Regions from separate parts of the Homo sapiens genome. Here regions 1, 2 and 4 are each reported to be linked to region 3. Evidence: microRNA targets listed by miRTarBase, many of them from high-throughput screens and not tested one by one. Region 3 holds a microRNA gene; each other region holds the end of a gene's coding sequence.
The links. The annotated mature microRNA hsa-miR-33a-5p reads GUGCAUUGUAGUUGCAUUGCA and lies in region 3 at 2,915-2,935, shown strand. An mRNA with a match to its seed (bases 2 to 7 or 8) in the 3' UTR can be bound and repressed. Matches are read on the target gene's strand: a 7mer-m8 pairs with bases 2 to 8, a 7mer-A1 pairs with bases 2 to 7 and ends in A, and an 8mer does both.

Region 1 (7,121 bases), not on the chromosome of region 3:
CCCACAAACTGCCGTTGCATTACAGATTCTTATTTCGTGTAATTATTTGAAGATGGGTATTCATCCACCCAGGATGCCACTACGGGACCTGTTATCTGGTACTCAGTGTGGTTCTAGGACCACCGGCATCACTTGGGGGCTTGTTAGAGATGCAGAGTCTCAGGCCCCACCCCAGACCTGAATCACACACTGCATTTCAACAAGGCCCACAGGTGACTGCAGCGTGTGTTAAAGTATGAGAAATGCCACCAGGGAGGAGAGGCCCACACCAGTCCAGAGACTAGTGATTCAGAGCATCACTACCCAAGAGAACTTTACGCAGTGATGCAAATGTTCCGTCTGTCTCTGTGCTGGCCAGAATTAACCGCTAGTCACATGGGGCCTTTGAACATAAATGTGGCTAGCACAACTCAGAAACTGAATATTAAATGTAGTAAGATTTCGTTCATTTCAATTTAAAGAGCCACGTGTGGCTAATGGTAACAATACTGGACAGAGTTCTAGTTCTAGAGTGCGGCTTTTCTGTTGCCCCAAACTTTTCAGTGCACCTGAGCTGCAATGGGCTGGGAAGTACCCTCACTGAACCTCTGCATATTTTTTCCAGGCATCCTGTACACGTCAAAGAAGAGCCCCTCGATCCAGAGGAAGCTGAAGGGCCCCTGTCCTTAGTGACAACAGCCAACCACAGTCCAGATTTTGACCATGACAGAGATTACGAAGATGAACCAGTAAACGAGGACATGGAGTGACTATCGGGGCGGGCCAACCCCGAGAATGAAGATTGGAAAAAGGAAAAAAAAAAAAACACGTCAAAAGTTAGCAGTGAAATTGTTCTCCATTTGTTGTACAGTCTGGAGGATTTTCACTACGTTTTGACAACTCTGAAATGTGTTAACTCTTAGTGCCATCAAGAACCCCATTTGGGAGTATTTTTGATTTTTCTACTTTTTGTTGAAAAAAGGAATTTGTACTCTGTGCATTGGATGGACTTGTTTGGTACTTGGGATTTTCCTCTCTTAACCGTCAACATCAGTGTTGTAAATTTGCTAAACTGATTCACTTTTAGCAGCAGACTTTGAACTGCAGTCCTGCCAACGTTGGACACTGAGGACGCCCGACAGAGCTTGTGCACCTAAGCTGCAGACCAAGCCTTTGCCCAGAATTTAAGGATTCCAATGGACGACCTATTTGCACAGTACTGCATGTTGATTATCACTGCCTTTACTCCTTTTTTTTTTTTTTTTTTTTTTTTTTTTTTGCTTCCAGTTGGGATGGGGAAGGCCTTTGTGTGTGTATTGGGGGGAGGGGTTAAAAAATAATTATCCCAAACTTTTTAATGTATTGCTTTTTTTTTTTTTTTTTTTCCTTCTACTATACCATTTTAAGTTCTGACCTCAGGCCTCCATTTGGGCCGATGGCCTCTTGGAGGCTTAAAGTTTTCTGTACCTTGTGATGAATGTTAATAGGTGTTTTTATTATACAAAGCTGAATGTCATTTCTCGTTTGTAGCTTTCTGTCACTCATTCCATCTTCCTTCAGACATCACCACGTTTCTCTAAAGTCAGAAAACATTCCGTTTTGGTCTTTTTCAAAAAGGTCCCAAATGCTGCACTCTACACATGAAGGCCCTCTCACACAGACGTGACGTCCTGCCAGAAAGAGAATGAATGACAGAAAAAAAAAAGAGAGACAAACTCTAGGAACAATGCCGATTCATTCCACGCAGCAGTATTGGGGGTGGTTCGGGGGAGGGGTGTTTCGGATTTTCTTTTTTTCTTTTCTTTTCTTTTTTTTTTTTTGCAGCAACCATTAATAAATGCCACCACATTCTACCAGCACAAGGAAACATAGGCAGCACTGAAAAAAAAAAAAAAGCTCATATTAATTAGACTGACAATATGGCCTTGGAAGGCTCTCCCTTGTGGAACCAAGTTGCCATGGGCCTTGGGTGCTCTGCGATAACGGGTGTGGGTTGGTTTTGTTTGCAAAATGGCCAAAAAAAAAAACCGGCTTCCCCGAGCAGCTGCCCTGAAAGTAGGGGTGGCGGCGGCGGCGCTGAGTTTATACATTAGTTCAGACCTACTTGGTGGCATTAAACTGTTTGAATGCAAATTCGATTTCAGATTGAACTTGTTAAGGGAGTTAACGAGGGCTGAGTTCAGCAAATGCTAAAGTGTTAATTTCAAATATGCAAATTTGGTACTGCAGTTTGTTATGCAATATTATATCACCAACCCAGTATCACAAAAACTCATAGAAGATATCATGTAGGCCCTGGGCTTTGGGGGGGTCCCAAACATGGTATGCAGAAATGTGATGGTTACAGGTCAGTACAACCTCAGTCCTTAGAACCCCTCCACACTTCAGCTCTGCACCCACTTTCCTGTCATTTATTTATATAGGACTGTAGTTTTTTTTAGTTCGAGAGCCTTTCGAAGCTTAATTTATATTCTTTCTTTGTACCTTTTTTCTAAAATTACCAAAGATATTACACAAAGGTAAATTATGTTCTCTGTTTTATGCTTTATCTGATGAAGCCAAATATCCTCTTATTGTTGATCAAAGGAGGCAAAAGAATTTAGAGGCAAATGACAAGCGATAGGCTATTGCAACCTGAGAAAGAGAACTGCTCCTTCATCGTAAATTTAGAAGACCAAGTAGATAATGGAACCAAAGTTGTTACTTTTTTCTAGTAGTTATTTTTCCTTTTTCTTTTTGTGTACCTCTACAGAGACCAAAACTCATTCTCTTAAAGAGATTTTATGGGGCTACTGCAGATAAAAATAGGACACAATATTAAAGGAGCTACAGAAGGAAGGGAGTCCCATCTCAAAAAAAAAATGAATGTATGCCACTGCAATTAGAGTATCCAATAAAGGAGACAGTTTAGAGTCAGGACAGAAAAGCTTCCATAATTGAACTAGATTACATAATAGTATTTCTAGAAAAAGAGATATTTTTAGATTGTATGCCACTTTTGTTTAAGAACTGTGCTGTGATCACTGTATTAATTTTGGTTTATCTTGGCATATATCCTTCAGTTTGTTTTTATTTTTAATTTTTCCTTTTTTTCCGATTAGGCTTTGGTCAGCATTTTTCATTTAAAGAAAAGTAACACTCCCATCCACTCATAAGCTTGGTACAAAAACTTCTCTGGCAGTTACTTTTGAAGCTTCACTCTGCTTTCTGTATAAAGGGCAGTCTGTGGTCACGCAAGACTTTAAAAAAAAAAAAAAAAAAAAAAAAAAAAAAAAAAAAAAAAACTTTTCCAGGCAGCTTCATGATGTGCAGGCAGTAGCCAGACAGGGTCATGGGAAGGGGGCCCTGTGCTTCTAAACTGAGTGGTTGCTGGTTAGTTTGGTATTCAAAAGAGGATAAAAATCTGGTAGATTAGTTCATTCTCAGCATGTGTAGCTAGACATGAGTAAAGATAACAGCATGAGAAACTGTTAGTACGCATACCTCAGTTCAAACCTTTAGGGAATGATTAAAATTTAAAAAAAAAACATTTCACTCAGTTGCACTTAGTCGTATGTCTTGCATGCTTAGTCTAAAGACTGTAGCAAAAAAAAAAAAAAAAGAAAAATTAGATTTTACATATCTTTGCAGGTATCACAGCCTTGCAGAAGAACCAACTGAAAAAAAAATTCTCAGGCTTTACAGCAAGCAAACTTCACTATGATTTTTACAATTCTGATTCTGTATCCCCTGGGGGTTATCCCAGTTGCTTCTTTAGGATGGGGTTTATTACGTTGTACATATATCCCGATGTGTCTGTGTGAATCTTTGTCTTTTTTGGGGGAGGGCAGAGGGCGGTTCTTTTTTTAGATATTGTTCCTAAAAAGGAATAAATGCATACACCTGTTTGTCAAAACACCTTTGCTTTTTGTGCAACTGCTTTATATTAACGATACTAAAAAAAAATAGCTTTGGAAAAAAAACTACTGTATGTAACGGAATTGCAGAATATGCTGCACATGTATTTTATTTAGTTATCCTTGCTTTAAGAATATTGGATGACATTTCCTGACATGTGGGAGGGAGAAACTCCCTAACTTTTTTTTTCTGCTTTTAAACTGTAACATAGTTGAAGATTTCTTTTTTCTGTTCTCATTGATTGGAGCATTTTGTACAGGTTTTGTGTGTGTGTGTGTGTGTGTGTGCGCGCGTGCGTGTGTGTTAATCTGTTTTTTGATACATTCCTATCCCTTGTGTTTATCCTACCACTGCCTTCCTGGCTATCTTAAACAAGTTCATACATTTGAAAAGAAAAAAAAATGTTGTTTAAAAAATGTTTTCTCCTGCTGCAGTAAATATTTTGCATGATGAAATTCCAGGGTCACACTTTTCCAAGTTTATCAGTGAAGTAGTGATTAACAATGGGGAGTGTCAAAACTATTGAACTTTTGTATAAAAAAAAAAAAACTTTACAAGGTGCCAAGATGTAAAGAAAATCTGTTACTTTTTTTTTCTCAAAGAAAAGCATACATTAGGGAGGTAGTCCCGTGTGTCAGACAAATGCACTGTCAGGAATGAGGATCCAACCTACCTGTCCCTAGAGTCCGTCTTGTAAGATGAGTTAGGCTGCCCCTTGGACCAGCCACAAAATGGAATATCAAGGCTTATGTACATACGTGAAGAGTTACCACCAGTCCTGCCACCTTTGGACAGCTCTAACACCATCCCCAGCATCCAGTCAGACCTAGTAAAGAAAACCTTGGATTCTTAACCCAAGATAGGCTGTAAATCACTAGCTTTTTTTTCCTCATGAAAAAAAATAGAGTTAAAAAATATTTCCTCTCTTTTCCATATTCCAGCTGAACTCCGTTTCCAAAGGCACAAAGAAGAGTGTGCTTATTCAGATTTTGAATCTTTTTGGTACCTTTTGGTTAATGACATAGCCTCCTGAAATTCTGGATGTCTTCAAAGTCAGTTTTGCTTCTTTATCCTGAAAATCAGATTTACAATGCTGAAGGCATTTCTTGGGCCCAGTGTAGCTCACGCAATCTCTGCTACCCATAAGCCTTGATGAAGATGATACAGTCCGGACTGTGAGCATGGTGCTTCATGTATATGTGCTGCCAGTAACAAGAATTTTTTTGTTTTGTTTTGTTTTGTTTTGATAAGGCATAAAAGAAACTCATTCCTTGACATCAACTGTAATTCCATCATTCCATGTCTGCGGATACAGACAATAAAAAAAATGTTGTGTAGTCAGTACTAATTACTGACATTATAAGCATTCTCAAATGCAATAAAAATGCTGGTTGTTCACGCTGGTAGTAAAAGTTGCCACAGCCTAAGTTTGTTTCCCTTTCTGACCTGCTGATATTGTATGTTAGGCATATGCCTTAGGTTTATCACCAGCTGCTTCCAATGCAGAATTAAAATCAATCTTAAAGCTTTCATGATCAGGGAAGGCTGAAGCTCTTATCCTCAGGATTTCCAAGTGAAAGTATCCACTTAGAGAATTGGGAAGTAAAAAAAAAAGAGCAAGAGATGTTATCTTTTCTCTTGAGGAAGCACACTCTTATTTTTTTCATCAAATTTTATAAAGAAAAACAAAATGTTTAATAACTAGCATTAAGAGCAAACTAAAATTTCAGAGGAAAGCAATTTCATGAATAATTCATTAAAATTTCACATCTGCAAGATTAGTCATCCAAATAAAATGCTAATGTCAAAAACATGCACCGTCTATAATATTCTCATCAAGAAATCTTTTTGCATATAATGATAAATGCTTAGATTAGAACAAATGATTTTATAAAAATATTCTATCAAAAGTATGCTAGATAATTGCATTCATTGAAGAAAACAGAACTTCAGTACCTAAATATTCCAGAAAAACCATCTTAATTTTGAGATTTTAAAAAAATAATTAGATGCATTTAGGAAATGTGCTGTTTCTTTTTAATATTACTCTATAGTATATATTCTAGGGATTAATGAATTTGAGCATCACCTTTCAATAAAAAATTAAATTGCCAATATGAAAGCAGTATTTTAAGTGGCCAAACCGTGGTAACATAAAACCATTACATATATAATTCAGAGCACATAATTCAGGGCAAAGGATGACTTGAAAATTAACCTCCCAGTCTTTATTCTGCAAAACACCCACCGATGCTGAGGATACAAGTGAACATTCTTTCCCAGCATTGTTTTGAAAAGCCCATATTAGCAAAGTTGTGTGTGTGTGTCTGTGTGTGTGTTTTTAACAAGTAGATTTTGCTATTAAGTTGCAAACTAGTGTCCTCTTTGAATTAACAATTATGCCCTATCTAGAAACCCCTTAGTCTCAATAATTAGCAAAACATTTGAACCTTTAATTCTCACCTGGCTACTGAGACTATAATCTTAGGGTTAATTCAAATTCCTGTAATTACCAGGCTTAAACCTAAATACTGCTTACAGCCTATACATTAGTAAAATTTAAAAATGTACAGATACTTCTTTTAATAAACTGGAGGACCTAAACCAAGTATGACGATATGTTAGTGAAGATTTTGCTGGTTGAGGCATAGTACATTTTAACTTATATTTCAGGAATTGTTCTCAAGCAGGAACACTCTTTTACATATTTATTTCAGGCTTGTCACTCTCATAAACGAGGCAGCAAACCCAAAATATTGGCTCTTCTTATAAATAGGCGCCTTTATATAAAGAACATAAAACTCTTAAGACTAATTTCACACCAACACAGGCAGCTTCATAATAGTAACCACCTCTCCCTCCCCACTAAAAAAGATAAAAACAAAGTATAATTAGTCTTTCTTATTAGATTTTTGTCTTTGATGATATTACGTATTTATGTGTAGGGTAGTAATCACAATTTATCCTTCATCTTCATTGTAGTTGAATCAAATAAAAGTATTCTTTATTCAAATAATGTGAAGTTGGGTGTCTCAAACCTTCATTTAATGAATTGATGAAAGGTTTAAGACAAAATTCACGTTGGAGGGAAATTAAGTTACATACAAAAACACTGGTTTTAACTGTGGGACAATATTTGGATTAGAAAACCATCTCTAGATATAACCTACTTATATTTATTTTTAAATGGTATTTTATTTTTTAAAATAACAAAACCCAATGTTGTCTTATTTCCACTTTGATTG
Region 2 (7,121 bases), not on the chromosome of region 3:
TTCAAATATAAATTGATCGCTTGGCTTATTTTTATTTTTTCATAGATGATAATGAAGCATATGAGGCTCTGAATTTTTCTGTAAGTACTGCTTTAGGGTATAGGGTATATTATGGATATACTGCTTTTTCTATTGTTTTAAACAGATTATAATTTGTATTTTCTGTTTTGATCTAAAAATTATTTTAAGACAGTATTTCAATCTCTACTTTTTTAGTCTTTCAAAATTATCCTTTTGTTATTAATTGCTCACTTTATTGCCTAGTGATAAAAAATGCAATCTTTTTTTAGAGACAGTGTCTTTCTCTGTCACTCAGGCTGGAGTGCAGTGCGTGATCGCAGCTCATTGCAGCCTTGAACTCCTGGACTCAAGCCATCCTCCTGCCTCAGCCTCTTGAGGAGCTGTGACTTTGCTTTTGATCCAAATTGAGATTCTAACTTTTAGTAGGGGGTTTAAGTGGCATGTGCATTCTATTTTCCTTCGTCTTATTTTGTCTTTTTCTTGTGCCTCCTCTTTTTCCTGGCTTTTGCTGTATATAAATAAGTCTGCTTTTGTTTTCTGCAAACTATGTAAGAATTGACTATACTTCCTATTTATAATTTTCACCTCACGATTACTCCTCCCCCTCCCTAACCAGCTGTTTATTTCCGCCATTCTAATAAAATGGCTCTAATCAGTCACCAATAACCTCAGATTCCTAAATTCAGGGGACGCTTTTCAGCACTGGTCTTACTATACTCCTCAATGCCATTCAGCACAGTTGACTGGCCCACCCCCCACCTTACTCAACAGCCCTGCAATTTTCTGGGTTTTGTTTGTCCTGTTATTTCCTGAGCTACCTTTCTGCCTCCTCCTTCTCCTCCTCTTTGGTTCTAGGCTGTAACCACTTCTTCTCCCAGGTGATCTCATCCACTTCTTTGGCTCCAGTTACTGTTAAATATGACGATGACATCCAAATTTCCAGTCCAGTCCACTTCTTTTGAGATCTGAACTAGTACATACAATCGTTCTCTTGACATTCCCAGTTGACAGGCACTGCAACCTCAACATGTCCAAAGATGAACCCATGCCCTTTCCCTCATCCACCCCCTTCTTTCCCCCTTTCCTCCATCCTCACCACTCTGCAGTAACATCTACCTGTTGCTCAGGCCATAGACTTGAGGGTCATTACCGGACTTTTTTATGCCTTACCCCCGACATCCTAACATCACCAAGTCCAAATGACTCTGCCTCTGATGTATTTCTTGAAACTATTCACTTCTTTCCACTGCTAACCTTCGGGTCTGGAAAACCATCATCTTTTGCCTGGACAAATAGAAATCTCCTGGCTAGTCTCCCAGCTTCCACTCTTGTCCCTCTAAAATCCATTTTCCCTGGCACTCATAAAGAGCTTGCTGAAATACAAGTGGGATCGTAGCATTCTTCTGCTTTAAAGCTTCCAACAGATTGCCCCTCCCCTTAGAATCAAAATCAAACACCGTTTTACAACCTGCAATACGTGGCCCTTGTGAACTGGGCCCTGACAACCACCCCAGCACTTCCCTTCCCTTCTTGTCCAGTTTATATTCCAGCCACCCCACTGTTATCCTGTTCCTCCAAACGCTGGTCACATTCCTGCCAAACTCCTTCCACACTCCCTACACATTTTCTGAGGCTAGTTCCTTCTTGTCATCTAGGTCCCAGCTTAAATGTGAAGACCCTCAGGGAGTCCTTCCCTGCCTCCTCAATCTGTAGTAGCCTCTCCCCACCCTCCAAGTCACAATCACATCACCCTATTCTATTCTCGCCACTATGCTTATCCCTATCTGAGAGTACATGGATAATCTGTTTACTATTTATTTCCCTCTACTAACAGAAACTCCCTGAACATAGGGTCCTTGTCTATTTTTTCACCTTTGTATCCACAGTGACAACAGTGCCTGGCATGAATAGGTGTGCTCAATAAAATGGGTCAAATGAATGGTACACTCCAGTAAATCCCTTGCTGCTGTGATGCAGGCATACAAAGATGCAGGGTTGGATTCAGCAGATCCAAATTTAAACACTGTCTGTGCCACTTATTAGATGTGCCTCTTGGCAAGTTATCCAATCCTCAATTTCCTCATCAGAAATATGTACATAATAATAATTATCTACTGTACTGAGCTGCTGTAAGGATTAAATGTGAAAAACCTAAACACCCAACGCCATGAGTAGTTTACAATAAAAGCTTAATTAATACATAATAGCTAGTACATGTCTGCATAAATCTCACACACACACACACACACACACACACTTTGATGCTTGTCTTTGCTTGGTGTTATGTTTCTACTGTTGAGCCAATGAAACCTCAACTTGTGTGTTCTTATTAATATCGTATCTCAAGAGCACAATCTGAGCTTACAACTTTCTCTGACCAGTTCCTAGTACACCCTGCACAGTTATGAGCTCTAAAAGCCTCTTAAAGTGATTTATCTCCCAAAATATAAATATTCCCCTCCAGCATAACACAATGGTTTCAAGTGACCTCTATTGCATCTACTTCCTCAGAGGTCTGTGAATAGTAAATACACACAAGTCTATATAACTATTGCATGTGTTGAAAGGTACAGGGTAAAATCATCTTTGCACTCATCCCAAAATCCTGCGAACACAGGTTAAAGAAGTAACTTTCATTATGGTGAAATAGCCCCCTTTTACAACACATAATGGCTAGAACAATTCAGTCTTTATCATTTATTATTTTTATTTGGACAACATATATACATATGTACAAAATACCTACTGTCAGAATCCTCTTTTATAATTTCATTTGATTTACAAAAACGGGACAGCAAAATAACTTAGGTCACTAATACTGTACAAAAATAAAACTGATTAAACAGTTGTAAAGATCAGTATCTTACAGTGTTACAGATCATCTGATGTGAAAGAACATCTCAATCTATCCGAGTGATGAGTACTGTGCTAAATCTATCTGCAAACTGACAAACTAATCAGTTTCTGTAATTGTAACTACCAAATAGAATTCTCAAGAGAAGCATGATGTGGAGCTAAACCTTAAAGCCAGGGCATCATTCCACAATGGTGAAGGGCTTTCTTCTTCCCTAACCAAAGAGAGGAGATATCTTAACTCTAAAACTATTAAATTTTCCAGAATATGACAACTACTTACAGTATTAGATAAAACAACTTTTCTTTCTTTTTAAACACCTGCAATAGTCTTTCAAAAATTCAGTTTGGTTAAAAAAGTAAACAAAAATTACTATCCTGCATTTGGATTTTCATAAGTTAAATCCATGGTCTTTTTAATATAAAAAGTAATTGTTTCATAGTTTTAGTGTTCAATGAACTCTAGTAGTCCTATTTGAACCATATCTTGATATAGTAAATCTAATTAGAATGCTGGTTCCTGTTTTGTGACATTTTAAAACAGGATTTAATCACAAAGAATAAAAAGGCTTGAGTTTATACGTTACATTACTATAACATATAAGAGAATATCAAATGTGTGTTTGTCAACAACTTGAAAAGGCAAGTAACAACTTTTTTGGGAAGTAAATTGTGCATTTTTTTAAAACAAGTTGCTGCATTTATATCCATCTAAGTGCTTGACAAAAGCCACATTTAGATTTACTCCTGAAACTATAAAGATTGTCTTTCACTGACTTTGCTTTGCTTTCTTTCGTTTCTTTCTGTGAGGGAAAGATGACTTTTTACAAGTTAGCAAGTTGCTAGGCAACCCCAAACTCCTCACTCACTAAAAGGCAGCGTGCAGAGTATCATAAGCAGAACCATTCCATGAGCTCAGTGAGAAATAGGCAGCCTAACCTATTTCGTATGGAAGAACAGATGTCCTTAAAACTTATTTTGGACACAGAAATTAAAATTTGGTTTAAAATAAGTGTTTCAAAAATCTGAAACAGAGGTAGAAAGTGTTCTTTATTTTTCCTGACATGTTTTCTCGTGAGAAAACACTTTCCTTTTTATCCCATGGACTGCTCCCAGTCCCTAATGTTAAAAGCAGTTCTCTTTATAGAACTACTAATACAACTACGTTGGTTAAACAAAAAAACACTGTGCTAGTGATGGCTGTTGTATTGGAAGTTGGAGTCAGCCGTGACCCGCGCCCACTGCAGGAGCCCACACTGATTCTGAATCAGAAACGAGTATGGGTCAGGTGAAATAGGTAGGCACCCTATGTTTACACATTTCAGAGCGCAAGTATAAACTAGAGTGCACCATAGCTCCCTGTTTTAAATATCAGATAAAATCATCAGAAAGCGTTACTTCTGAAGAAAAAAAAAATGTAAACATTTCCCCCATGATCACTGCTGACTCCCCTCATTTGAGGTCTTAACTACGAAAACTCAGTTCACTTTTCTGGCCTCATAAAGGCCACAGTTAAGTTTTCAGGTAAATGGCATAGATGGATGTAGTGGTTTCAGCCATTATAGACACCTAGATACAAGATATATTAGTGGTGAGGCTATTGATGTAAAAGATACAGTGATGTGATTTCATTCCTAGTATTCCATGTTGCCTGCATTCTCCACAAGGGACGATTTTGCAGAGTCTCCTCTGAAATCATTGTGGTATTTTCCCTTGGTGTTCACTAGTTATAGGGGTTGATTTTTCTGTTCCTATTTCAGCTCCCTTTCCTTCTACATAACTCTTGCACCTGAGAGTGGGAGTTTTGTAGGAACACAGGAAGGAGACCAACAAACCTTTTTCCCCAAAAAATAGGTGTTTCCAGATCTCATTACTGTTATGCACACATTCAAATAAAACCCAACAGAGTCAAAAGCTCTCTCCCCTAGTGGCATTAGGATACAATAATGATGTTAACTAAAAGCATAGGAAAATTTGGAAAAGTTAATAGAGTTAAAATTCTGTTGGTTCTTTTCTTTTTCTTTTGCAAAACACTACCCTCCTTCTCCTTCAGCATCTGTTGTGTATATTCTGCCCTCACATCTCTGCCATGATTTCTTAGGGAAACGTGTATATTGTAAAATAAGCAGATTATAACGTGGTGCCAAACAGAACATCTGCTTCTATCCTCAAAGCATGTATTTAACTTATTCATCCTCTGCATTAGAAAATAAAAGTGCAGCTTATGTTCAAAAAGTACAACTCATACAAAGCAAGGTTTAAAAGTTCTGTACTTAGTGTAACCTTTCAAAGGTTTGTCTTGATTAGTATAAATTCAGACTCTGCTTACCCATTGACTATAAGTAACTGTTTTTTGTTTTCAAGTCTTTAGATGACAGATCATGCTGGAGTAGATGTGCTCTTGCTTGCATAAAGACAGCTGTGCTATGGCGTTTTTTTTTTTAATCTCAAAAGTTAACGTGATTCAAGAGAGTGGTTTTGCTAAACAAACTGAAGCACACTCGTCATTACATTAAAAGGTAAGAAAACAATTCTGAGAGACAGCAAGCATAAAGGGCCCAGAATCACTGTGCGAGGCCACAGGTCAACTCACCCAGCGGACATATGTACACCAGTGTTGAATCTTTAAAATTCTACCCCAGTCTTGGCCTTACCCCCCTCCCCCCCACCCACTCCCTACCCTCCCCCGCAAAAAAATAAAAGGAGAAAAAAAAACAAAAACAAAAACCAAAAAACCCAAAAGCATTTGCCTTCCCTCCAACAGTCAGAGACGGGTTCAGAGAGTTGCCTCTTCAAGGGGACCGAGTGTTGTTGACTTTGATCTTAGGCTACAATGTGCTTTTTAAAAACAATGCAGGGAGAGGAAAATCAGAATATTGACCAAAGAGCAGTGACTTCCTGTGCCGTCAAGTGTGCCTCTTCTGGGGCTCAGTTTTCACGCGTCTGTTTCCTGGGAGTACTTTTCTCCTTTCGGGGTCCATCCCTCCCTGGCTTCCACGGGCAGCACCTCACAAAGCGTTGGCCAGCGCCTTTTTCGATCGCTTGATCATGCTGGGGTGGAACTCGGTGTGCCGCCGGGCGTGCTTTGTGAGGTGGTCACTCCTCATGAAGCGCTTCTCACACAGCGGACAGCGGAACTGCTTTTCCCCAGTGTGGGTCCGGTAGTGGCGGGTCAGCTCGTCTGAGCGGGAGAACTTTTTAAGGCAGTCTGGCCACGTGCAGGGAAAGGGCCGTTCACCTAAGAGAAAGGAATCAGAAAGGATACAGCTCAAAGAACATGAAAAAAATTCCGAAGGGCGGTCATGGTCAATAGTCCCTACGACTCAAAGGATAAATCCCTCGGAGATGATTATTATGTGTCCCCCTCCCCAAAATCCCTATGTTGAAGCCTTAACCCCCAGCACCACAGAAAATGACTGCATTTGAAGTTAAGGCCTTTAAAGAGGCAACTGATGTTAAACAAGTTCATGAGGGCAGGCCTTAATCCACGACTGGTGTCTTTATAAGAGGAGATGAGGACACAGACATGTGAAGACTAGGGAAGACCTTGGGAAGACAGGGATGAAGCCACCATCTACAAGCCAAGGAGAGAGGCCTCCAATGAAACGAACCCGTCCCCTGCCTCTACCTTGGACTCCCAGTCTCCAGAACTGTGAGGAAATAAAGTTCTGTTGTTTCAGCCACCCAGTCTGTGGTTGTGTGTTATGGCAGCCCAAACTAATACAATGAGAAAGTTGCTAACATCTCTAAGCAAATGAGCTTGCCATTTGGTACCCTATGGGTCCCCTGGAAAGTATTTTTTCTGTTTTATTCCACACAATTGCTGGTTTCATAAATTCTTTCAAGAGTAAAAAAGCTGAGCCTTTTTGCTAAATTTCTTGGTGTTGTAGGATGGAAAAGAATTGGCATTGGGTCCAACCAGCCTCCTACCTGGAACGAGCATTTCTCCCTGAGCTCCTGAGTGCAGGGGCCACTCAGCATCTGGTTGTTCCTGAGCATCTCTGTCACATCTTTTATTGATATAAAATCTGCCTTCCTGCAAAGGCCATACTTTAAGTCATATTGTCTTAACACTAGAAGTAAGTTTGTGCCAGGTGTGTAATCCCTCACGCCTGTAATCCCAGCACTTTGGGAGGCTGAGGCGGGCAGATCACCTGAGGTCAGGAGTTAAGAGACCAGCCTGACCAACATGGTGAAACCCCACCTCTACTAAAAATACAAAAATTAGCTGGGTGTGGTGGCGTGCG
Region 3 (7,121 bases):
TTAAACTTTTTTCTCTCTAAGCCAGTTTCATTATGACAGACTGCCAAAAATGGGATTACTAGCTTAACGGGAGTGAACTTTTTTATTTTTTTTGAGACGGAGTCTTACTCTTGTTGCCCAGGCTGGAGTGCAATGGCACGATCTCGGCTCACTGCAACCTCCGCCCGCACCGAGGTTCAAGCGATTCTCTTGCCTCAGCCTCCCTAGTAGCTGGGATTACAGTCACCCGCCACCATGCCCAGCTAATTTTTTTGTGTATTTTTAGTAGAGAGGGGGTTTCACCATGTTGGCCAGGCTGGTCTCAAACTCCTGACCTCAGGTGATCCACCTGCCTCAGCCTCCCAAAATGCTGGGATTACAGGCGTGAGCCACCGCGGCCAACCAGGAATGAACATTTTTAAGGCTCTTGATATATATTGCCAAACACTTTCCAAGATTGTGCTGGTCTATTCCCCTCCCCCAGAATCCTGGGTGTGGGAGCCCAGAGGCTGCTGGCCCGTTCCCAGCAGGCAAAGATGTTACCCATCTCCTAGGAAGGAAGTGTAGCAGCCTCTGAGCGCCACAGGTCTCGTTTCTGTGGGTGCTGGAGTGCGTTTGGTGCTGTTCTCCTCTAGGTCCAGACATCATCTGTCGGTGGTGGACGTCTGCAATCACTGTGGCCATCAGCTGGCTCCAGGGAGACGATGCAGCTGTGCGCTCTCATTTTACCAAAGTGGAACGCATCCCCAAGGCCCTGGAAGTGACAGAGTGCGTAACCCTCCTTGGCCACTCACTTGCTTCTCTCCAGGGGAATCTTGTTTGAGTTAGCAGGAGCAAACTGGACTGGGTGGGCGTGTTGGGGTGAAGGGTCAGGACTGCATGACAGGTGGGCGGCTAGAAAAGTCGGGGGTGAGGGCACCATGGAGAACTCAAGTTGGGCCAGCAGGTCCTCTGTGCAAGTGTCCTGCTCTGCACAACACGACAGTTGTCCCAGCAGCTGTCAGCACTGTGTCCGGGTCCTCCTCCCTGCAGCCTTCATGGCGCCACAGGCTGAAAAGAAGAGACGAGAGCAGTGTGGCCCCCAGCATCTTCAGAAGCTTTGTGGTGGAGGCAGGCACTGGTGGTTCACAATCAGTGCAGAGAGGCCACTGTTGCCCCCAAAACTCATGTGCACTGGAGCATCTTGCCCCTGTGTGCTAGCATTTTATCCACTTTCCTTCCAGCCACCTCCACCCCCACCATCAACCCTGGCAACTTTGTCCTGTAACTAAAATAGCCTTTAGCACATGGCATAACCGGAGAGCTTTTGACATTCCTCTTTGGAGATTCATGTCTGCGTCTTGGGGGCATTCGGCACTAGTGATGGGCAGCCCTGCCTGCTGACTCCCCGGCTGTTTCTAATTGGATCTGAGTATTCTAAGAGAAACTGTAAAATGCTCCAAGACAGAAAGGCCCCACGAGGTCCTATCCTTAGAGCCAAGGCTGTAGCATTTCCTATCAAGCAGACCCTTAACCGGCGCACAGGAAGGAGCTGAGAAGAGTGAGTATACACAGGCTTGAAGTCCTTTGTTCCCTGAAGTAGATGTGACACCCTAATTTCATTGAAGTAGCCCCATTTGTAAGCACTCTGACTAGGTAAGCACCCAGCCCGGTATAGCATTCCACCTGTATGTGTGTCTCCCCCAGTCGATGTGCCTGAGGACACTGAGACTCAGCAGGTAAGTTGTCCAAAGTCACCTCGCTCCAGAGCAGCAGAGCTTCCATGGACAGCCAAGACACCCCTGCAGGCACTGCTGCCTGCTGGATTCACTTACCCCTGGGTCCCTCTGCTTTTCAGGGACTAGGATGCTATGAGAACCCTCCCCCATCCCTAGCCTCCCCTTCCACTCCCAGTCTCCTCTACAGAAAGAAGCTAACTAAGTATCTCCAGAGAGTTTAATACCACATCTCTGGGGGGGTGGTCCCTTAAAGAACGGGTACAACACCTTATTGTGGCCACTTTATAGGTAAGGAAACTGAGGCACACGTTGGAATGACTATCTTGGGTGGCTTCTTAGCAGCAGACGTGATGGTGAAGCCTGTGTCTCTGACTTCCAGCATTGAATGAAGGTGCTAAAGGGTGGGGCGCTAACCCTAGCTCAGGGCTGGCATTTCAGATCTGGAGCTGGTGGCATGGTGCCATAGTGGCAGCATTGGAGTCAACAGATGCACATGTCATATCAGTGTGGGGCGTGGCAGTCACTGGCTTGGGCCCCTCTGCCTGTCACGCAGGTGACACATAGTGACCTGCCTCTCGACTCCCTGTCACTGCTGCAGGAGCCCCCTGGTGAAGGCCATCTTCCATGCCTGCAGAGCCATGCATGCCTCACTCCCTGGGAAAGCAGATGGGCAGCAGAGTTCCTTCTGCCATTGCGAGAGGGCCAGTGGCCACCTATGGAGCAGCCTCAACGTCAGTGGGGCCACCTCTGACCCTGCCCTCAACCACGTGAGTGGGAGCTGAGTTGGCCCCTGGGGGAGGTGCTCTGCACTGGTTTACGAGAACACTCCCACTCACCTCATGCTGACCCTGCGGGTGGGGCCATCCGAAAGACAGAGAAACCAGGACAGCAGCCCCCTTTCAAAAAAGTTACGGCTTATTGGCCTAGGTGGACTCCTTTTTCATCCCTTTTCAGCCTCTGAGGCAAGTGTGTTTCTACCTGCACCTTTCTTAGGCTCCCAGAGTCCCAGGTCCTGCTGGCCCATAGCCTCTGTAAGCCCAGGTGCACCCCAGCTGGCCAGGGGTTCACCTGCATTTGCTCCAGCGGTTTGCGTGACTTCCCAGGCCTCTGCAGGCAGCCTTGGAGTGGGTTCCTGCCCCCTCGGGCACACAAACAGAGCTGAAGACCACCCTGGGCACCTCCTTGGCTGGCCGCATACCTCCTGGCGGGCAGCTGTGGTGCATTGTAGTTGCATTGCATGTTCTGGTGGTACCCATGCAATGTTTCCACAGTGCATCACAGAGGCCTGCCTGGCCCTCGAGAGACTGCCCTGACTGAAGGCCCTATCAGGTGGGGGAGGGGATCCTGATAGAGGGCACTGCTGCCACTGTTGGGGCCCAAGTCACAGCCATCCCAGGAAACAGGAGGGCACCCAGCTGAAAGTGGAGCATCACCTGGTCTACGGGGAACATGTCCTTAGCTCCAGAGTGGGAGGGACCGGGAGAGTCCTGGAGATTCAGATTCTCAGCCACTCCCTGGGGCTTGGTCTTAGCTGGCTAGGCTAGTACTTCAAGCTAGATATTGTCAGTGGACCTGGGCACTGGGATGAACCCAGGACAGCGTGGCAGCCCCTACAGGGACAGGCAATGTGCAGAAAAGGCCCAAACTGGCTGGACGCGGTGGCTCACACCTGTAATCCCAGCACTTTGGGAAGCTGAGGTGGGCAGATCACCTGAGGTCAGGAGTTCGAGACCAGCCTGACCAACATGGTGAAACCCCGTTTGTACTAAAAATACAAAAATAAGCCAGGTGTGGTGGCATGTATCTGTAATCCCAGCTACTCAGGAGGCTGAGGCAGAAGAATCACTTGAACCCAGGAGGTAGAGGTTGCAGTGAGTCGAGATTGCACCACTGCACTCCAGCCTGGGCAACAGAGCGAGACTCCATCTTTAAAAAAAAGCTGGTGGGGGTGCCCAAATGCCCTGGGCTGCCAAGACCAAAGGCAGATGGTGAGCCACATTTCACCTTCTCTTTTGGGCTTTCCATTAGTCTCTTCCGTATTTGTCTTCATGAGAGAACCAAACAGTACAGGCTCAGTTTGGGGAATGAGAGGCTTGCAGCCACCCTTTGGACTGGGGTTCCTTGGTAGCAGCTCTGTGGTAGGAAAGTGAGCCTAGAAGACAACGCCATGCAGCCTGATGGCCCTCGGAGGGCAGAATCCAGACATAGGCCTGCTGCCTCCATGCCCACAGGTGCTTCTGCAGCATGCACAGCTTAGAAGTGCCAGGTTTTGAGGAGAGGGATCCTTTTCCACATCCCCTTGAAGCACACAACAGCCAGAAAACAGTGTAGGCAAGGATCAAGGCCTTGTGCAGGGACAGGGCAGGGTCTTCCTCAGGCCCAGTGTCCTGGGAAGGAGGAAAGCCAGGGCTGGGTGAGATGAGGCTCAGCCTGAGGGAGTTCATCAGGACCGGAGGGCTGCTTGCGGCCCATCTCAACAAGGACTCCTCACTGCTCGGTGTCGTGCAGGTGTGCCACTGCGAGCCGGGTGGGCAGCCCAGCCCCATAGGTCGTAGGCAGAGAGTATGCATGGCCCACATGCAGTACCTTCTCATATGATACAACAGCCCTGTGATGGTGCCATTTACATTTTTTTGAATGAAGAAACTGAGGCTCAGAGAGACTAAGTCCTATGCCAGGGTCATGTAGCTAGTAAGTGGCAAAGCCGGGTCAGTAGGCCTAGTCCCCAAGCACTAAGGCACTCTGTGGTTCTGTCTTCTGAGACACCTGTCTCCCTCTCCCACTCCTCCTCCTCCTTCCCCCAGCCCCATCGACAGGCTCTGCTGCCACTTCAGGCTTTTCCTTGGTACCTTGTGGGTATCTCAGCCTCCTAGCCAGCCATGGTGGGACTCCCATGGGGTGGAAGAACCTGCGCCTTCAACCCACAAGGGTTTTATTTCTGCCCCTGCCACCTGCCTGTGCTGTATTCCCTATACAAGCTGCTGTCCCTGTCAGAGCCTTGCTTTCTCACCTGCAGAATGGGGAGGGCTTGTCTCCCACCTCCTGGGGCCATGGAAGGAACTGGTTCTCCCCTGAGCTGTTCCCTCACGTCCTGCGGAGTTCACCAGACTCTGGGGCTCTCCACTTCCTCCCAGAGCTGCTGAGTGTTGGTCTGGGGAGAGGCCTGGTAGGTGCTAGGATCCTTGCCTCAGGGATGGGCCAGTCACCTGTCTCCCCTCTCTCGTGGCTGACCCCACAGGTGGTCCAGCTGCTCACCTGTGACCTGCTACTGTCGCTACGGACAGCGCTCTGGCAAAAACAGGCCAGTGCCAGCCAGGCTGTGGGGGAGACCTACCACGCGTCAGGCGCTGAACTGGCGGGCTTCCAACGGGACCTGGGCAGCCTGCGCAGGCTGGCACACAGCTTCCGCCCAGCATACCGCAAGGTGAGGCCCAGCTGGCTGGTGGGGCAGGGCAGATTGGAGCCTGTGGGGCCTGAGCCCAGAACCCAGCATGGGCACCAGCATGTGGTTGTGGAGTTGGCCCTCTGAGGTCAGCCTGGTGACCTGTCGAGCACCTGCTTGGCTCGTGCCCAACACTGGGCTAGGCGCCATGTGTCCCTGTGTTCAGCACACATTGGTTGAGTGCCTGCTGTATGCCTGGCCCTGGAGCTCAGCAGGGAGCAGGCCACACTTTGCTGCCACAGACAGGGGCCAGCAGGGAGCTGTGCCTCCCCAGGCACATGCTGGGTGGGAGGGCTCTGAGGGCAATGGTGGCAAGTCAGGGCTCCTGGCCTGGTCCCGAGCTCCACGTTGACTTTCATTCTTTTTCACAGTAGCTAGAGGCTTCGGTTCTGCTGCTGGGTAACATCCCCTTGGCAGTGGCCACGTGATCTGAACTAAGTCACGGAGGAAAGTTCTATGACTGGGCTTGCCAGGCTCCAGCTATTTCCTTTTTTGTTTATTTGTATTGCTATATAATGTATTCAACATATTTGTACCTGTATTTTTTTCTAAAAATTTGAGTGAGATGACTCAAGTGTCATTGAGGGGGCACGGGCTGGGCTGGAAGAAGGCCTCAGAGCGAGGCTGCTGCCGTGGAGCTTGGGATTCAGCCCCCACACCCATCACCCTGAGGTGCTGCGGGGCCCACCCAGGGTTGCACTGTGGCCACTGTGTGCAGCAAGCCAAGACAGACACAACAGACAGTATCATCGGAGAGCCATTCCTTACTGTGGAGAAGAGGGCATGTACCCCAGGCCTGGAGCGGCACCCCTGCCTCCTGGAGCCCACTCTGGTCAGCTCTCTGGTCTGCTCACAGCATGGCTGGCATCAGTGGCCTTTTTTTCATAATAGATGGGGTCTTGCTATGTGGCCCAGGCTGGTCTCAAACCCCTAGCCTCAAGCTGTCCTCCTGCCTCGGCCTCCCAAAGTGCTGGGATTACAGGTGTGAGCCACCTCGCCTGGTCCAAAGGCCTCCTCTTAAATACCATTTCCATTCTGCTGCTCCCTGCTGAGAGCCCATCAGCGGCTCCCCATTGCCTACCAGGACCAGAATCCACTTGGCAGCACTGAAGACCCTCCCTGAAGACTGAGATATAAAGGCATCAAAAAGAGCTTGAGATTTTAAGAAATGACAGACCTCAGCCTTGCCCTTCACCCACCAGTGGCTCATACCTAAGCGCTGCAGACTTTACCCGCACACCTCTAGACTCTCTTCCTTTCTAAAGATACGGAAAGAGGATACCAAACCTCTCTGGTACCAGCCCAACTGTCCCTCCTCACCCCTCTGTCCCTGTCACACCTGTCCTTTTGTCAAACTGCAGGCAGCCTCCAGGGCCTTGGGGCTTCACCCAGGGCACTTGTCTACCAGCCCCACGAGGTGCGTCCAGGGCTTTCTTGTCACCAGTTGGGAAAAGCAGGCCTTTTGCCTCTCTCTCCTCTCATCCTGCTCCTGCTGTTCAGCCAGGTTTCCTGCCTGGCTCAGGGTCAGAGTACGGGACAACAGAGGTTGCTTTTCAGGGGTGAGCAAGGCAGGGTGGTGTGGGAAGGGATGTCATGAGGTGGCAGGCGAGATGGCTCAGGGAGAGCTACCCTGGGCATAGATGGGTGGGGACCAGGGGTGTGATGGATGTCACCCCGGCACCTCCCCAGGTGTTCCTGCATGAAGCCACCGTGCGCCTGATGGCAGGAGCCAGCCCCACCCGCACCCACCAGCTGCTGGAACACAGCCTGCGGCGGCGCACCACGCAGAGCACCAAGCACGGTGAGTCCACCCCTCCCCAGCTCACAGGCTGGGCCAGGCCCTGCGCCCTAGGAAGAGAGGAGAAGAGGGGCCAGCCCAGCTCCCACATCTGGCATTGGTGCCCAGCACACCTCTCGCCTCTCTGAGAATGAAAGAAGCCCGAGGCCGCCCTTGGTGGGTTGCAGGGGTTGGGGTGGTCATG
Region 4 (7,121 bases), not on the chromosome of region 3:
TATTTGTAAAATCTTGATTAGAAAGTAGTTTTCACTTGCATAGTACTTGCTTTTGGCTCTGCTTGCCCTTCATGGGAGTCAGCTCCTTTTCTGGAAGTTCTATATTGTAGGGAAGAAGTAGACTTTTAAAAATAAAACCCTTGTGGAGTTGTCAGGGTTCTTGGGCAGTAACTGAGTCAAGATGCTGCAGAATCTGCTGGCACTGTCAGGTTGCCCAGAGGACCATGAGCATTGCTTCATGCAGGCATTTTGAAAATAAAGGTCCAGAAAACACAAGCTGTTTCAGGAGAAGAATGGAATTCCAGTGCATCTAAAGGGTGGTAGAGCTGATGACCTCCTGTATAGAGCCACCATGGTTCTCAGTTAGTGAAACAGCATATGCCATGCATCAGCTGGCTGTGGTTTCATTTCCCAAGAAATGGGATTGACTTCAGTCATCACAGCAGTGACTTGATTCAGTTTCATTCAGCTCTGTATGGACTCCTAGTCCATAGAGAATAAATAAGTCCTTCTTTGAAGACAATATTTGAATTGTACTAACTGCCACCAATACAGTAGTCTTTACCAAAAATAAAAAACAAAATCCTCGAGTGCTAACAGCAACAAATCCAGGGCAGAAATACTGCCACTGAGGTTGAAGTTGGGGGTAAGAGGGTATTGTACGTGACCTTGGGCACAGGTGGCCTAGCATGAAACAAAACTACAACCCACTCATGGAACTAGCAGGAGGGGTGGGATTTTCCTACAGTGATAAATTCCTTGTGGACTAGGGAGAAACCTAGAGTGAACATGAGAACCAGAGGTTGGATTCTTTATGTAAACAACAGATAGGAAAATTTTTAAGCTCCTATACTACCTTTATAACATACCCATTTGGGTTGATAGGAGAGCAAAGGGAAAAATAGGGCAGAGGGAAGAAGTTTACAAGGGATTGAAAGGTATTACCCAGGCTTCTAGTTACTTATCCTAGGGCAGGACCCATCCTGAGCTGGATGTCTATTTGATTACTTTTTCTAGCTAACCCTTCTTTCTAGAAAAGCTATTTTTAAAGGAAGTAACTACTATTTGAACAACATTTCAGAATCCATTTTTATGCTTTGGTTTTTATTGTCTCAGTTTAACATTTCTGTGAGGTAGACAGTGTTATCCCTAAGTGACAGCTAAAGAACCTTATGAGTACTTCCTGCTAAGTGGCTGTGTGATCAAACATACAGCCTCAGAGTATCCAGCCGTGGTCCCAGGTCTAACCCCAAAATGTTTAGAAGGAAGGTTATCCAAACTTCTGACTACTCCCCACTTTGCTTCTCTTTGTAGAGTGACAACCAACAAGCTGCTGCTTTCCATTATCATCTTACTGGAGCTCGCCATCCTGGGAGGCCTGGTTTACTACAAATTCTTTCGCAGCCATTGAACTTCTATAGGGAAGGGTTTGTGGACCAGAACTTTGACCTTGTGAATGCATGATGTTAGGGATGTGGATAGAATAAGCATATTGCTGCTGTGGGCTGACAGTTCAAGGATGCACTGTATAGCCAGGCTGTGGGAGGAGGGAGGAAAGATGAAAAACCACTTAAATGTGAAGGAACAACAGCAACAAGACCAGTATGATATACCAAGGTAATAAATGCTGTTTATGACTTCTTTAAATTTACATAGTACTGTAGCATATTAATACCCTGTGAACTGCAAAAAACCAAATACATTTACAGTAGTATTGGTCACCAAAATAGAGGGGAAACTTTACAATTGTGAGAATGTGTAAATGTTCTCATTAAGGCAGTATTGACCCAGACAACCATTTAGTATTCATCTATCCCCTCAATGCCTCATAATTCTGGAATGCCTGTTGTGAAACATGTCAGTGCACAGTGTCTCCTAAATTCTCACACGTGCTTGATTTTCTGATTCATCTGGTGAACTGGGAGTAGGAAGTTGGTCATAGACAATATGCCCTCCTTCTCTTGTCTGACCAAAGCTTGAAGCAATCACATCTACTGCCAGGTTAGCTGTAGTCTTCGCCTCTTCCTCTGAGGTGGCCAACTGAGGATTGACTTCAACAAGATCCAGTGCTGATAGCAACCCTGGAAGAACAAAGTGTGACAAAACCTCAGGTTCCCTTGCTGCTACTCTCAGTGAGGGTCATCCCACTGGGACAGGGAGAACAAGCCAAAGTAAAAACAAGAGTCCATTTTATAGTAGAAAATACCTATTTTTAGGAAGCCCCTTGCACCTCATCCTCTTGGCCATGAATTTAAGTTAAAACACTGTTGTGCTATAGTAGATTAAAAGAAACCTTTTAAGATAATGAAATAAACCATCCCTGTTCAACTAACATAACAGGCATAATTGTCAGGCGTTCTGGAAAAGGAAAAGGCTTGGTGTTGGGTGGGGGAGGTTTTCATCCTGCTTGTTGGCAAAATGTATGCCACCTCCAGTATGACTAGGAACCTTCCAGATGCCTGCCTGGAAATGAATCAAGTATGAAGGCAGAGGAAATCTGCCACTTGCACTAGCCAAACTGCATTCCCACTTTTGAACTCTAATGTGTTATCTGTATCTGTTAGAGCACCACACCATATGCCCTGAAATGTAGTTATTACTGCAAACTTCATTCTCACCCCTGCAGGCCTGAGCTCTGGAGGCAGGTTCCACATCTAACAACATCTTTTTGTCTCCCAGCAGACTGACCCAGTGTCTTGTACTTGATCAAGAGAAAATTCAGCCATATGTTAATTATTTTATCTGGACTTCAGTTACCTTCTGTTAAGGTTTGAGAACTTGTGTCAAAGTTCTCGGTAGTGTTCCTTTGGCCTGGAGCAAGTGGAAGGGAAGCTTAAACCAGAAGAACCTATCCAGACCTGCTACTATGCTCACCCCTCTAAATGCCTCACTTCTCTATAGAATTTAACTTTTTAGTTGGTTATTCTGGATGAAGGGTGATCTGAACAAGCTAGTATTCAGGAATACAAGTATCTAAGAATATTTAGGGTGGCCATAAAGTCTGGAAACACAGGCAAATGTACCTAATGGTTTATTGATATTACACTATAGTACATGATGTGCTGAATGCCATCATGTCCGTTCAGCATCTTCCCTTATTAGCAATGCATAGTTGAGTGTACAGTGCCAAACTGCAACCAACAGGTGTATTACTGTAGCATTTCCATCATTTCCTGCACATGGACCTGTGTTCCTGATTTGTCTCTGATTTCCACTGACTAAACCTGCACCTTTAGCATATCCCAGAAGTGGTCATCAAAGTTTGCACTATTAGAAATATATACATGACTTATGTTTCCAGACTATTGCCACCCTATAAATTAAGCAAACTGCTTTATGTATCTAGTTGACAGCATTATAACAGTGCAGTGGCACAATCATGGCTCACTGCAGCCTCAACCTCCCAAGTAGTTGGGACACCTGGCTAATTATTTTTTGTAGAAACGGGGTCACACTATGTTGCCCACGCTGGTCTTGAACCCCTGGGGTCAAGTAATCCTCTTGCCTTGGCCTCCCAGAGTACTGGGATTATAGGTATGAACCACTGTGCCTAGCCCCATGAGTGTCTTTTGGAGTAAAATATTGTAGCATAGGAACAAAGAGACAAGCCATGCCATATATAAGTGCTAGAGGTTATTAACCCCTGCTCTAAGTGGTGTTTTTAGGAAGCAAAGCAGAGAATTGAACCCCCAAGTTCTCTGGCCAATAACCTAAGGACCACTGGCAACATCTAAGATTGCAGATCTGAGAATTAGACCAGTACTGCCTGCCTTTTTGTACTGCCTAAGGTTCTGGCAGGCTGTGGCGCTAAGGAGACCATTTCTCAATGTGAGTTTCTATCCCAGCTAGTCAAGGGTTCTCTATAGCCCTGAACCTTTCAATCTGGGGTCTCTATCTATACCCTAGTTCCATCAGATGGTTACTGAAGCAGTATGATTTGGTAGTTCTTTAAATTTTGGAATGAAAGGTCATTTGAAGTAGCTTTAAAACCAGAAGCTTTCTGACAGAAATGGAAACTGTTTGCAAACAAGTATGAGTTTTGGAAAAGTAGCCAGTCTTGATAACGTAGAATTCATCTTAGTACTCTTTCCATCAGCCATTCTCATCTAACTGTATCCCCCTTATTAGAAATCCTTTCAGGCTCTAGTACAAGACCTACCCTACATAAAGGACCCAAGATATTGTCCAGTTTGCAGATTTCTTCAAGAGATCAGCTTTAGCTCCAAATTCACAACTCCCAATGAACCAATCTCTTAGAGTGCAAATTACAGCCTTGCACTCTTATCTTATCTTGCCTTCTTATCTTAATCTGCCTTTAGATAACTCAAAGAACTGCATCAGTTTGACAATTTATTCTTGTATTTAATTGTTTAAATATACAATTTTTTACTCATTATTACCTTAGTGTAATTTGGTAAGAGCCATGTCCAAGCATGACTCTAAAGGACTATATCCTTTTTATTAGCATGGCCATATAATTTTTAGCTACAAAAGTTTAAGCAAAAACAAACTCTGCAATGATGTGGAATAGCAGAAAAGATCCTTTGCAGGCAAGAGACTCTAGCATATTTACCTATGTAGTTAACAGGCTGCAGACCTGGTTGCTACATACCTGTATTGTGTATTTCCTCAGCAATATACATGCCTTCTCGATAGGTTAGTCCCCCGACAACAGGAGTTCCTGTGGCTGGAGCCAGTGTAGGGTCAAATGCATCAATATCAAAACTCAAATGGATTGGTCTTTGTCTCCTAAAAAGGAAGAGGATAAAATAATACTTAAAATAATACTTAACTGGTTGTCCTTGGACACTCATCCTTCTTATGGTTGCAACTCCTTGATTTTGTTGCTATTAGTCCTAGTACTTTGTTAATAAAGCTGTTAATACATTTCCAGGCTTCCTATTCTTGGAAGTTACTGAGATTGGCAATATTAACTTCCTACATACCACTTCATGATACTGCCATTTGTTCTGCATACCTCAGACAGACTAACTCCAATGTATATTTCTGCCTTACACTGGGTATTAGAACCTCTTATACTAATAACTGTCAATAGAGAGATTTCTTCACTTCTAGATGAGATTGGGCTCTCATCTAGAGACAATTTAATTAGACAATTTAAATTAGTCTAATTTAAATTGGCTTGATGTAAGTTATGGTTGCTCTTATTCTCTGAACGTAACAGCAGCTGAAGTGAACTCTAATTTTAGGTCTGCAGTTTTAACATCTTCCATTTCTAACTTCATTATAGCCCCAGTGTCCAAAGGCTGAAGCTAACAACTAAGTTTCTTAACAGCTTATGAAATGACATACTACCAGATAACAATTCTGACATTAATCACCCAGAAGTAAAGACTTGGTATTGGGAAAATGCTCTTAAAATTACCATTTGATTAGTATTCATCTGCCATCTTTCTACACTGCCAAGATTTGCTTAATATAAAACTCAGATGAAACAATCGTGAGGCTGGGAAGAATGGGACAGTTGAAACAATAAATGCTTGTCATCTCAGAAGATAAGCATTAAAGATGGAGATAAAGAAAAATTCATGAGACAGAAGATCTAGGCAATGATTTAGAGGAAACCTCCTCCCAAAAACCCCAGAGGAAGAATATGACCTGTGTTTCAAATTTTGCCTTTCTGAACTATTTAAAATTATGTGTATGTTTTTGCTTTGTATTTTAAAAGTAAAGCTGCTGTCCTCAAGAAACAGGCTAAAAGTGTGTTGCCCATTGGGGGTTTGCCCTGACATCAGTTATAGTTACTTACTTGCCAATCAGCAGATCAAATGTTCGTTCCATGACCTTCTGGATACCAAGTCGATCAATATCTCTCATGGAAAAATACTGGATATCATAGTTCTTTAAAATAAAACTGTGATGAGATATAAAGGGAGGAGTCCTTAGTTTAAAGAGCATTTTTAACAAATATGTATTTGGGGGAGAGGGTGGGTTTGTTGTAGTGACCTGCAATAGACCAAGTTAAGCATCAGCCTTTCAAATAGAACATAATTGGCTAGGACAGGCCCTAAACTTCAGCCAAATGCATCAACTTACTGTTCAGGAGGGTCCACGTCTCTCAGACCAATATACACAATACTTGCAGAAGAGATACAAGGTTTGATCCAGGAAAATCCTGGGAGTTGTGGTACCTATGAAAGGGAGAAATGGACAGGATTAATCAAGAATTCTTGTTCTCACCAAGATCATTATCATGTGCGTCCGTGGGTATGCAATCTGCTTTCTTCTGCCACCCACAGGGTAAGTTTAGAGCAACACAGGACACACTTGATCTGGGAAGGAGAAGTGACACAAGGTGGAAATGTTTCAGAAGGGCAGCTGAGGAACACAGTATTGCTTTCTCAAGACGAATAAAATCTCTAAGGTTGTCTTGGTTTCTCATTAACTTACCTAGTAGCAGGAATACTGCTGATTAGCCCTTTTCTATCCCATTGCACATTACTGACTTGTTTACAGATTGGTTCTTGAAGCATAACCTGGTTGCCATCTCAAGTTGCCAACAGCCGACACAGGACTTCCGCCCAATGAATAATCTTTGTAGTGTCCTGGTTTGACTTGGTCCCTCACTGAGGGGAGGGATATACAGATTCTAGTCTGTGCCTAACATGGACTCCCATATATTCTGAACTGCTCAGGAAAATATTACCCAGAGGTCATGGTTTTATTTGTCTTCTAGATCAGTGTGTCTGAGAGTATGGCCTGGGAGCCTCTAACCAAGAAGTCCTCAGGCTGTGGGTATATCAGTCGCTATTGTTACTACCCCCTCCTTGCTTTCTTACAAAGAACAGAGACTATGTCTAGTCTTTATACCCCTAGCATCTGGCAGACTGCCTGGTCCATAATAGTGATGAACAAATGAAGGAGTGGTAATCCACACTCAACCCACCCTTCACCAAAATCTTAACTGAACTAGACCAACTCCAGCAAAACCCTGCAAGCCATTCACCTTTCTTTTCGTTTTGGCCCACTGACCTTATCCTGTAGTTCTCTGAGGAGAAATGAAACTGGCTGTCCATGGAGATTTCCTGATGAAGTGGTAAGGGGTGTGTTGATGTCAGCATGGGCATCAACCCAGACAACACAAAGGTCTGGGCAGTGTC

Region 1: the mRNA of FOXP1 is a reported target of hsa-miR-33a-5p. Seed matches in the 3' UTR shown: 7mer-A1 at 2,105-2,111 and 7mer-A1 at 5,249-5,255.
Region 2: miRTarBase lists KLF9 as a target of hsa-miR-33a-5p. The part of its 3' UTR that is shown has no 7-base or 8-base seed match.
Region 4: the mRNA of VTI1B is a reported target of hsa-miR-33a-5p. Seed matches in the 3' UTR shown: 7mer-m8 at 3,103-3,109.

Annotation. Positions count from the first base shown.
Region 1 is chr3:70,952,875-70,959,995 of GRCh38, reverse strand. FOXP1 (forkhead box P1) reads left to right here. Exons shown (of 21, transcript NM_001349338.3): 21 at 605-5,288. The coding sequence ends at 749. Among named protein-coding and RNA genes, the nearest start is that of FOXP1-AS1, 330 kb to the left of the region's middle.
Region 2 is chr9:70,381,894-70,389,014 of GRCh38, forward strand. KLF9 (KLF transcription factor 9) reads right to left here. Exons shown (of 2, transcript NM_001206.4): 2 at 2,711-6,112. The coding sequence ends at 5,883. Among named protein-coding and RNA genes, the nearest start is that of KLF9-DT, 29 kb to the right of the region's middle.
Region 3 is chr22:41,898,035-41,905,155 of GRCh38, forward strand. It overlaps MIR33A (microRNA 33a), which reads left to right and starts at 2,910; the gene lies at 2,910-2,978. SREBF2 (sterol regulatory element binding transcription factor 2) reads left to right here. Exons shown (of 19, transcript NM_004599.4): 15 at 615-747; 16 at 2,296-2,464; 17 at 4,936-5,121; 18 at 6,829-6,940.
Region 4 is chr14:67,645,675-67,652,795 of GRCh38, reverse strand. VTI1B (vesicle transport through interaction with t-SNAREs 1B) reads left to right here. Exons shown (of 6, transcript NM_006370.3): 6 at 1,315-5,711. The coding sequence ends at 1,411. It overlaps ARG2 (arginase 2), which reads right to left. Exons shown (of 8, transcript NM_001172.4): 4 at 6,994-7,121; 5 at 6,058-6,152; 6 at 5,771-5,875; 7 at 4,613-4,749; 8 at 1,088-2,081. The coding sequence ends at 1,876. It also overlaps a transcript of GPHN not described here and the pseudogene COX7A2P1. Among named protein-coding and RNA genes, the nearest start is that of VTI1B, 25 kb to the left of the region's middle.